Linked DNA regions of Homo sapiens. The protein of the gene in region 3 purifies or fractionates together with the protein of the main gene of each other region. This does not show direct contact. Each region holds a gene or a part of one and is shown on either strand. Other genes may lie near its edges. The genes, in order: SNAP29, CCP110 and JADE2.

Region 1 (3,654 bases), on a different chromosome or scaffold from region 3:
TGGAAGGCGGAGGCGGATGGATCACGAAGTCAGGAGGTCGAGACCATCCTGGCTAACACGGTGAAACCCCGTCTCTACTAAAAATACAAAAAATTAGCCAGGCATGGTGGCAGGCGCCTGTAGTCCCAGCTACTCGGGAGGCTGAGGCAGGAGAACGGCATGAACCCGGGAGGCGGAGCTTGCAGTGAGCCGAGATCGCACCACTGCACTCCAGCCTGGGTGACAGAGTGAGACTCCGTCTCAAAAAAAAAGAATTAGCCAGGCATGGTGTGGGCACCTGTGATCCCAGCTACTTGGGAGGCTGAGGCAGGAGAATCGCTTTAACCTGGAAGGCAGAGGTTGCAGTGAGCTGAGATCACGTCTTTGCACTCCAGCCTGGGCAACAAGGGTGAAACTCCATCTCAAAAAAAATAAATAAATAAAATAAAAAATAAATAAATAAAAGAGAGAGAGAGAGATGGTTATGGAACCTGAGTTATCACATAATATCAAGCAGTTTTTCTGGGTTAAATGGAAGAAAAAGGCTATCAAACCAAAAGAATACTATGGTTACAACTATGAAAATACTGAATAAGGGGAAAATGAAATTTTCTGTTTTTGTGTTGCGGTAGGTAAAGTATAGATTGTCTGTAATGTGGCCATGTTGTTTTTGTAATAAAAACAGACACAGTGATCTGAAATACAAACAATAGTAATCTACTTCAGCAGAAACTCCATTCCTTTATCCTTGAACATGTAACACTGAAGTCTACCAAAATCTCATGAATTTTTTTTTTTTTGAGACGGAGTCTTGCTCTGTCGCCCAGGCTGCAGTGCAGTGGCATGATCTCAGCTCACTGCAAGCTCCACCTCCCGGGTTCACACCATTCTCCTGCCTCAGCCTCCCGAGTAGCTGGGACTACGGGCGCCCGCCATCACGCCCAGCTAATTTTTTGTATTTTTAATAGAGACAGGGTTTCACCATGTTAGCCAGGATGGTCTTGATTTCCTGACTTGGTGATCCACCCGCCTCGGCCTCCCCAAGTGCTAGGATTATAGGCGTGAGCCACCGTGCCTGGCCCCCAGTCTCATGTATGATTTTATATTTCGAGCCAAAACCTGAGGAAAGCAACTTCTAACTTTATTTTTTTGATTTTAATTATTTAGCTTTAAATCTTTTTTTTTTTTTTTTTTTTTTTAGAGACAGGGAGACTCTGTCACTGATGCTGTAGTGCAGTGGCACCATCATAGCTTAACTCTAGTCTCTAACACCTGGGCTAAAGCAATCCTTCCACCTCAGTCTCCCCTGTAGCTAGGAATATAGGCACGTGCCATCATGTCTGGCTAATTTTTTTTTTTTTTTAGTTTTTATAGAGACGGGTCTTTGCTATGTTGTCTAGGCTGGTCTCAAACAATCCTCCTACCTTAGCCTCTGAAAGCATGGGATTTTACAGATAAGCCACTGAGCCCAGCCTTATAATTTTCAAATAAAAATCAATGGGCGAATTGGATTAGATATGACAAATTTAGACATAAAGACTTTTTTTTTTTTTTTTCTTGAGACAGGGCCTCCCTCTGTAGCCCAGGTTGGAGTGCACCATTACAGCTCACTGCAGCCTTGATCTCCAGGCCTCATGAGATCCTCTTACCTCAGCCTCCTGAGGAGCTGGGACTACAGGTGTGCACCACAATGCCTGGGTAATTTTTGTAAAGACTGGGTTCCCACTATGTTGCCCAGGCTGGTCTCGAGCTCCTGGGCTTAAGCAATCTACCCACCTTGGCATCCTGAAGTGTCGGGATTACAGGTGTGAGCCACTGCACCCAGCCCTAAAGATTTTTTAAAGCAAAAATTATGTGAAGTGAGTCACATTTGTACAGATTACGCTGAGGTGAACACCCTCTCTTTCAAAGTAGTGGGGTCACAATTATTGGAGAAGCTATTGACAGACTAGATGTCAATCAAGTGAACATGGGATCAGGGAAGAACAGTTCCTGGTTTCACAATGTTTGAGGACAAATATCCCCTGATGAGTAACTTAAAGGGTTGTTGGATCCCTTCATGGCACTGACGTGGACTGAAAGTCTTGGTCATTTGCACTAATCCCCACTTCTGCTCCTTTATACCCAGATGGTAGAAGATGCACTCACCTGTTGTTGGGCTGGGAGGTGAGGGTGCCATTCTGTTCAGGTGGGGTCTCTACTGGTTTGGATTTGAAGTAATTGACCAGCCCCCCAAACACGCTCTTAATGCTATTGATGTGTTTCTGGCTGATCTTCAAATCTTGGTCCATCTTGTCCACCATCTTCTCTGTGCGCTCCAGGACTCCTCGCTGACGGGCGAGCTCCTGGGGAAACCGAGAGGCAGTGGCATTATAGCTTTCTGTGACTCTCCCCCAGGGCAGTCAAGGACCACATGGAGCAGCCCCTTCATAAACTCTCAGTGGGCACATCTGGAGACGGGTACTGTCATCTGTGAGGGGCACACTACCCTTTCCAACAACACATTCCTTTGCCTCTCCCTCCCTGCCCTACCTCTACTTGCTTTCCTCATTTGTTCATGAGACCCTTTTCCTGAGAGGCTGGCTCATGGCGCCATGTTAAGATGGATGGCAGAGGGTGGCGCAGTGATTCACACCCGTAATCCCAGCATTTTGGGAGGCTGAGGCGGGCAGATCATGAGGTCAGGAGTTCAAGACCAGCCTGGCCAACATGGTGAAACCCCCTCTCTACTAAAAATACAAAAAGTAGCCAGGTGTTGTGGCGGGCACCTGTAATCCCAGCTACTCGGGGGGCTGAGGCAGGAGAATTGCTTCAACCCTGAAGGCAGAGGTTGCAGTGAGCCAAGATGGTGCCAATGTACTCCAGCCTGGGCGACAGAGCAAGACTCCGTCTCGGTTGGGGGTGAGGGGAGATGGATGGCAATGTGCCTGTGAGGTTCAGAGTCTATGGCCTGAACTGGAAGCAGATTCTCTCTAGCCCTCCAACTCTGGGAACCCTCACAGGTTGGGCCTGGCACTGCCCCCTGGACTTTGGTTCTTATATTCTTCCTTTAGGAAGTTCCCATTTAAGGAGTTCCCACTGGGCCACCTGAGCCTCCTGGCCATGGTCAAATCCTCAAATTCTATTTCAAGGACCAGTGTCCCCTCTGGGCCCTATTAGTGTCTGACTCTAGCCCATCCACAATTCCAGCTTTAAAACCTGTTAACACGGGTGACCCTGTCCCAGGGCCTTTGCACACACCACTGTCTCCGCCTGTAATGTTTTCCATCCAGATACTTACATGGCTCAGCCTCTCATCCCTCATCCAATTAGGGTCTCCTTTCAAAGGCCACTCTCTCAGAGAGGCCTTCCCAGACATCTTCCCTAAAGGAGAATTCCTTCTTCCAACCACTACCCCTCTTCTCCACCTCCTTTTCTGTTTTGAGATGGAGTCTTGCTCTGTCACCCAGGCTGGAGTGCAGTGGCGTGATATTAGCTCACTGCAACTTCTGCCTCCTGTGTTCAAGCGATTCTCCTGCCTCAGTCTCCTGAGTAGCTGGGATTCCAGGCGCCTGCCACCATGCCTGGCTAGTTTTTTGTATTTTTGGTAGAGACGGGGTTTCACCATGTTGGCCCGGCTGGTCTCGAACCACCCGCCTCGGCCTCCCAAAGTGCTGGGATTACAGGCATGAGCCA
Region 2 (3,137 bases), on a different chromosome or scaffold from region 3:
AGCTAGAAGGAAGAACTCTGATAACCCAAGTCCACCTGATGTGTTATTTTACTTAACCATTTTGCATGACCACCTCCTACTCTGCTTTGATTAGTGGTTTCTGAATTTCACTATATAAACTCTAGTCAAGCACAAAACATCAAATGAAGAAATGTGTTTTAAAACCGTAAGTCAAAGATCACTTACGATAACATCAGAGATTGCAATTTAGGTTTGTAAAACTATAAATAACTAAATGCTTTGCAGCATACTTTAACATTTTAGAATTCTACTTCAGTCTAAGAGTATGATATTCTATCATAAGAAAAGTTAGTTTTCTATAAATTGCTTAACAAAGGATTTGCCTCCATTTAGAGCAAATCAGAACATAATTTCAAATTTGTTTAAAACATAATTCAGACCATTAAAACTCTAAGCAGGAAAGAGTAATCTTTTCAAGAGCGACAGTGAGTTCCTGTGTTCAGATTCATAGTTAGCATTTTAACCAGCCAATATCCCAAACTCTCAGTTTATATAAAAGAATACAATTCTGGCTGGACGCGGTGGCTTACACCTGTAATCCCAGAGCTCTGGGAAGCCGAGGTGGGCGGATCACCTGAGGTCAGGCGTTCGAGACTAGCCTGGCCAATATGGTAAAACCCCATCTCTACTAAAAATACAATAAATTAGCTGGGCATGGTGGCACGCGCCTGTAATTCCAGCTACTTGGGAGGCTCAGGCAGAAGAATGGCTTGAACCCAGGAGGTGGAGATTGCAGTGAGCCAAGATCACACCAATGCACTCCAGCCTGGGCAACAGAACAAGACTCTGTCTCAAAAAAAAAAAAAGAACACAATTATTTAGTTTCTTTCAATTGTCTAAATATGCACTCATGTATAAGTAAATCTTTAGAAAACAACAGCAACAGACTTTTGTACTTGTTTAGATACATATTAATTCAAGGGTTAAGTTCATTTGTATTAATAAGTATGTTGCAATGCAATTTAACCTCAATAGTTCAAAATAATGAACTTCATTGTATGTTACTAACTTCAGTGACTGACTATACATCCTTTATACTGTTGAGTATTGCTGAATAAAAACAGTACTTGCTATTTTGCTTATAAGTTCACAAGTGACAAATAGTGGAGATGAAATGCATGAGAAAAGAACATGGAGAGTAGTCACTGTGGCAAATTGGTATCAGGCAAAACAATACTAATTCCTCAATGATTTTCCAACTTGCTAAGTTTCAGTGCAATATAGAATACTAACATGAGAAAAACAGAAAATGTCTTAAAATTCCACAGGTTTGGTGTTTGGTCTGAGTCCTTTCAAATGGTTATCTTTCAAACTAGCTTATTCTGACTGCCTCTGGAGTAAACAGTATCTTCAGCTATGTAATCCTTTAAGACAATTCCATTAACTGTCACTCACAATGATTTCCAAAGATGATCTTTTAAATTATCCTATATATGTGTGACACTATGAATTACCTTCACTACATACATACAAAAGGTCAGCCATCATTTCAAAGTTACGACCAATAGCTTGTTCCCTCCTAATTTGAAGGAAATCACTTAGTAATAAAGCTCTAAAATTTGCCTAATTGTATATTAATGGAAAGATTAAAATTGATTAAAGGTTTAATCTTCAATGCCTGGTGATTAATTTAGGTTTGTTGTAAATGTCTAGAAAGCAGTATAGTTAAAGCACAACATTTGGAAAGTATTTTTAAATGGATCACATAATTTTTAAGTGAGCTTAATCAAAGTGTCTTAACAAAGATACCTAAAAAATATTAAAGCATTTGGTTAAGAGCTTTGAATTTGCTCAAGAATGAGTTTGTCTTCTTGCCACCATAAACAGAATTTTAAAATACAGTTTTTAGTTTAGCTCTTAATCCTCAAATAATGAACATAAGGAGAGATTTAGCTCAAGCTTTGGACTGAGCAAAATATGAAGCCCTCCTCCCACTGGCATATTCACATGTGATCTTATAGTCTGAGGGAGAAAGTTTATCCCCTTATGTGCAGATACACTTCCCCAAGCTGAACAGACAATGCACAGACTTAGCACCAGAGATGATCGTTATCTTTTATTCATTAAATAAAAAGGTTTTCTGAATTAAGCATGGCAAATTCTACAATTTTTTCAGAATGAAAAATACAAGGTGCTTTCCACAGAAATATTATAGAAATGAAGACTGGAATCACACTTTTACTAAGACTTCCTGACTGCCATACAATGCTAAGACCAAAGAACACTAATAAGATGACTGTGAATATGCCAAAATTATGGTGGCAAGGAAAGACAATCTATTCCACTTCTATGGCCTGAGTTATGGGGCAGCTTGTGCACTTCCTTCTATTGAATGGGCTTCAGGAATTTATTTTCTACAAACCTGAAACAGGCACTCTGTTAGGCACTCTGCTCTGTGAAGGCTTCTGTCTATTTTGCACAACCCCCTTCACTGATGTCTTAGGGGTTCTAATTGAATATAAAAAAATTAATAAGTCACTGGCATTAAGGTCTAAATGTTCAAAATTCAAAGAAAGCAATCACATTGCATCAACTGTCCAAAGCACAAATAAGCTTGAAAAGAACTGAAGTCTCATGCATGCGCACAGTAAGGAAAGCTAAACTCTGGCTTCAGCAGGAGACTATAAGCACGAGTCATACTCTGTTGGAGAATCACTTCGGTGATGCTGAATTTACTATATGGATATTTAAAATACTTTATGAGTAAAATGGTATGAAATGAAAAGTAAAAACATCCCAACTTAAGACAGTAATTAGAATACACAACAGTACACCAAGAGGGTTACATTTGAAGACAAAACTTTAAAATATCTTTCCCAATGCTATAAAGAAAAAAAATCCCATTGAAAAACCATTATCCTTTACATAAAGAACACTAGATTTATTTTTCCCTCTCAAATCTAATCTTGGTTTCCGTAGTTTTCAATACCCGTGTGTGGCATTCTTACCCTTGTCTACTAAGTAGCCTATGAACAGGTGCATTCTGTCCTTGGTTTGGCTGAAGGACTCTGTTGACAAATTAAATGAAAAATTAATTTAATAGGTTAAATTCCATTTTTTCCCATTTTCTTTCAACGGATGAAAGATGATGACTGTAAGGTAAAGGTCAACTATGC
Region 3 (3,654 bases):
TATCACCACACTGGTCCAAGCCAATCTCATCTCTTGCCTGAACCACTTGTTCATCTCCCAGCTTCCAGTATCAATTCACCCATGTCCAGGCTCCACACAGCTGCCAGAGTGATGTTTAAAAAGCATAAATCAGTCGGGGTGCGGTGACTCACACCTGTAATCCCAGCACTTATGGAGGCCAAAGCAGGTGGCTCACTTGAGCTTAGGAGTTCAAGATCAGTCTGGGCAACATGGCAAATCCCCGACTCTATGAAAAATACAAAAGTTAGCTGGGCATGGTGGCGTGTGCCTGTGGTCCCAGCTGCTGAAGGGGCTGAAGTGGGAGGCCAGGAGGTTGAGGTTGCAGTGAGCTGTGATTATGCTACTGCACTCCAGCCTGGGTGACAGAGTGACACCCTGTCTCAAAAAAAAAAAAAAAAAAAAAAAAAAAAAAGCCAGGCACGGTGGCTCATCCTTATATTCCCAGCACTTTGGGAGACCAAAGTGGGTGGATCACTTGAGAGGTCAGGAATTCGAGACCAGCCTGGCTAATGTGGTGAAACCCCGTCTCTACTAAAAATACAAAAATTAGCCAGGCTTAGTGGCGGAAGCCTGTAATCTCAGCTACTCTGGAGGCTGAGGCAAGAGAATTGCTTGAACCTGGGAGACAGAGGTTGCAGTGAGCCGAGATTGTGCCATTGCCCTCCAGCCTGGACAACAGAGTGGGACTCTGTCTCAAAAAAAAAAAGGTATAAATCAGAAGCTGGACATGGTGATATGCACCTGTAGTTCCAGCTACTTGGGAGGTAGAGGCAGGAGGATCACTTGGGCCCAGGAGTTCAAGGCAAGCCCGGGCAACACAGCAAGACCCCATCTCTAAAAAAAATTAGAACAAAATAAAAATTTTAAAAGGCATAAATCAGATCATATCATGCCCCTAAGAAAATCTTTCAAAGGCTTCATAGATCAAAAGACAAAGCCTAAGCTCCTGACCACAAGACCCTACACAATCTGGCCCCTGCCACCTGGACAGCTTCATACTGACCACTATCCCCTTCCTCACCACCTTCTAGCCATGCTGGGCTCCTTTCATTCCTTTGAACAAGCCAAATATTCCATACTTCGAGCCCTGTGCACACGCTGTACTCCACTCTGTTTGGAATATTCTTCTATGTGGTCTATGCATGTCTGACTTTTCAACCTTCAGGTTTAAGCTTCAGTGTGGCCCATGTCAGTCTATGCTCATCACACTATCTGAAGAAATTCACCACCCAGTGTCCACGGAATACCCATCCCAGCTGTGCTTGTTGAGCTACTTGTTGCATGTCGTTCTCCTTGGGAATGTATATTCCATGAAGAGTAAGGAGCATTCCATTTAGACTCCAGCCAGAACCCCAGTGACATACTAGGGAGTGCTGAGTGTGCTCTCGCTCCCTCCCCCAAGAAGTGTCGGGACCACACAGTCCAGCTGGCCTGCCTGTGGCTTGCAGGAACAAACACCCTGGCCCAAGATTTCGCCCTTGTTTTCACAGCCTGCCTTCCCCGTCTTAACCTCACACATTTTCCAGGAGGCTTTATTTGGTTGGGCTCCTGGCTAATGATCAATGTCAACTCAGTAATAGGGCAGCAATTTGGTGGCAGATGTTTTCTTGGCAGCACTAGTGGTTGGCCTTAGTGAGGGCCTCAGGTCTGGACTTAAAACACCAATGCCCAATGCCAGCCCCCTTTAAAGACCTCTCTGCAAATAAACTCAAATAAACACCCTGGGCCTCCATTAACGCCCTTCCAGCTGACCCTGGGAACAGTGGGCCTTTCAGGCCTGCCACTGCAGCCACTCCCTGGGCAGTTAAAACACCCCAACCTGGCCTCCAGCCTCTCCTCTCCAGGGGCCACTAGGCCTGGCCTGCCTGCCACCACACAGCAGGATTTCGTCCTCTTCTTTAAAAAAAGGGGAAAAAAGGGCTTTCAAGCAGGCAATTTACCATTCCAGACACAATCTTTCAAAGAGAAACAAAAACTCTCCCTGTCTGAGGCAGACCGCTAAGGCGTGTGTGTAATAAGATGCTAATACAATTTAATGATATTTCGGCTGGAAAACCTGTCCTCAGAGCCTCCTTGTGTTGGGAAGGCCAGACATTCAGAAAACAAGAGCTGCACACTCTTAAACCGCTTTAAACCGGGGTCACAGCCCCACTCTTTCCTATCTCTCATTAACTTTAATGCCTTCTCAGGGACAGTAATTGCAGTTACAAAAATGATTTTGTATACAGAGTAGAGGGCTGCTGCCTGGGATCCTCCAGTCGGCTTCCTGGACCTGCTTCTCCAAGTCTAGAGGAGCCTGAACCCTCCTGCAACACCAGCCATTGCCTGTCTGCAACTTCAAGTGTCCCAGAGGGGACTCAGCTCCCCTTGAAGACGCTGCCACACCCACCCTCCAGACCAGTTCTGGGGACGTACCAAGGGGATGGTGGGAGAATGAAAAGGCTCTGTCTACTTTGTTCTTCAGAACCTTCTCACCCTACTCTTTGCCCCAGAGAGGGCAGAGCTCCGTCTACTCGCTCCCATATCGGCTGCCTATTGGCACCTGCAGGATCCTTCTGATCCCTTCTGCAGAGAAGCGAGCTGGCTCTCTGGCCTAGCCTAAAGGTGAGAGATCAAAGGTCCAAGCTGCATCGGGGACCCTCCCCAGGTATAATAAGGATGACTAATACTAATCACGTGCTTATCACATGCCTGCTTTGGGCTTAGTCTTTTTTAGGTAATCACTTATTCTATACATCCACTATGAGATAGGTACTGTTATTAATCCCATTTGCAGAAAGTGCTCCTTGTAACAGAAGGAACTGAGGTATAGAGCCATTATGACAGTTGGTAACTGCACAGCCAGGATTCAAACCTAGGCTGTCTGACTCCAGAAGGTGTACCCCATCTCCAGTGGGCTGAAGTGTACAGGCCTACAAGTTCCAGGGTATGGGTATTCTAGATTCCTATGGGCTGTCTGAAAGGAGCTTTGAGCAGACCTACAATTGTAAGCTTTTGAGCCACATGGTAAGGGTCCTATCTGGAGGACAGGGCAAGCCAGGGGTATCCTGCTCCCCAACTCTGACCTGTTCTCCCCATCAGAGAACCTAAAGGGAGAACTGTGAGGTCCCAAAAAGCCTGCTGCATGTGCCATGAAGAATTTGGACTAGAAGCCTCTTACCTGTGTCATGAGCATAAGACAACTGCCTTCCTGTTAAGAGGAACACTAGGTTAGAGCCAGAACACCCTGCCTCCCAACCTCAAGGATGTGGGGGTCAGTGTCCAGGGCCTATACAGTGTCAATACTCCGTGGTGCATCTAGGACCTGGGGACTGGCAGTCCCACCTCACCAGTCCATGAAAGCTAAGTGGAGATTTCTGACAACCTCTTGGACCACTGTTACTGGCCCTTTAGCCAGGCAATTTAGGGAAAGGAAAAGCATTTTGGACGGGAAAACATTCTGGAAACATTTGCTGCATCCTGAGCCCAAACAACTCTATCCTTAAACACTTCATCTCCAAAAGTGATGGGGGGACCCTTGGCCAAACAATTTCAAAACCAATATTCACTGCAAGTCCTGCTGCCTGGGGCGAGGACTTCCCTCTGTGAGGCATTTGCTGCAGAACCAAATGCTTTTCCACTCAAAACAACAGC

The links.
Region 1: the proteins of JADE2 (region 3) and SNAP29 purify together in Homo sapiens (affinity purification with mass spectrometry, with the first as the bait; one large-scale study listed by BioGRID). This does not show direct contact.
Region 2: the proteins of JADE2 (region 3) and CCP110 purify together in Homo sapiens (affinity purification with mass spectrometry, with the first as the bait; one large-scale study listed by BioGRID). This does not show direct contact.

What each region holds. Positions count from the first base shown.
Region 1 is NC_000022.11:20,869,007-20,872,660, reverse strand, and holds part of SNAP29 (synaptosomal-associated protein 29), read right to left. Parts: intron 2,325-3,654; coding exon 2,128-2,324; intron 1-2,127. UniProt on the Homo sapiens protein: SNAREs, soluble N-ethylmaleimide-sensitive factor-attachment protein receptors, are essential proteins for fusion of cellular membranes.
Region 2 is NC_000016.10:19,547,847-19,550,983, reverse strand, and holds part of CCP110 (centriolar coiled-coil protein of 110 kDa), read right to left. Parts: intron 3,030-3,137; coding exon 2,970-3,029; intron 2,470-2,969; coding exon of another isoform or gene 2,384-2,469; intron 1-2,383.
Region 3 is NC_000005.10:134,528,663-134,532,316, reverse strand, and holds part of JADE2 (E3 ubiquitin-protein ligase Jade-2), read right to left. Parts: intron 434-3,654; exon of another isoform or gene 1-433. UniProt on the Homo sapiens protein: Scaffold subunit of some HBO1 complexes, which have a histone H4 acetyltransferase activity. Acts as an E3 ubiquitin-protein ligase mediating the ubiquitination and subsequent proteasomal degradation of target protein histone demethylase KDM1A.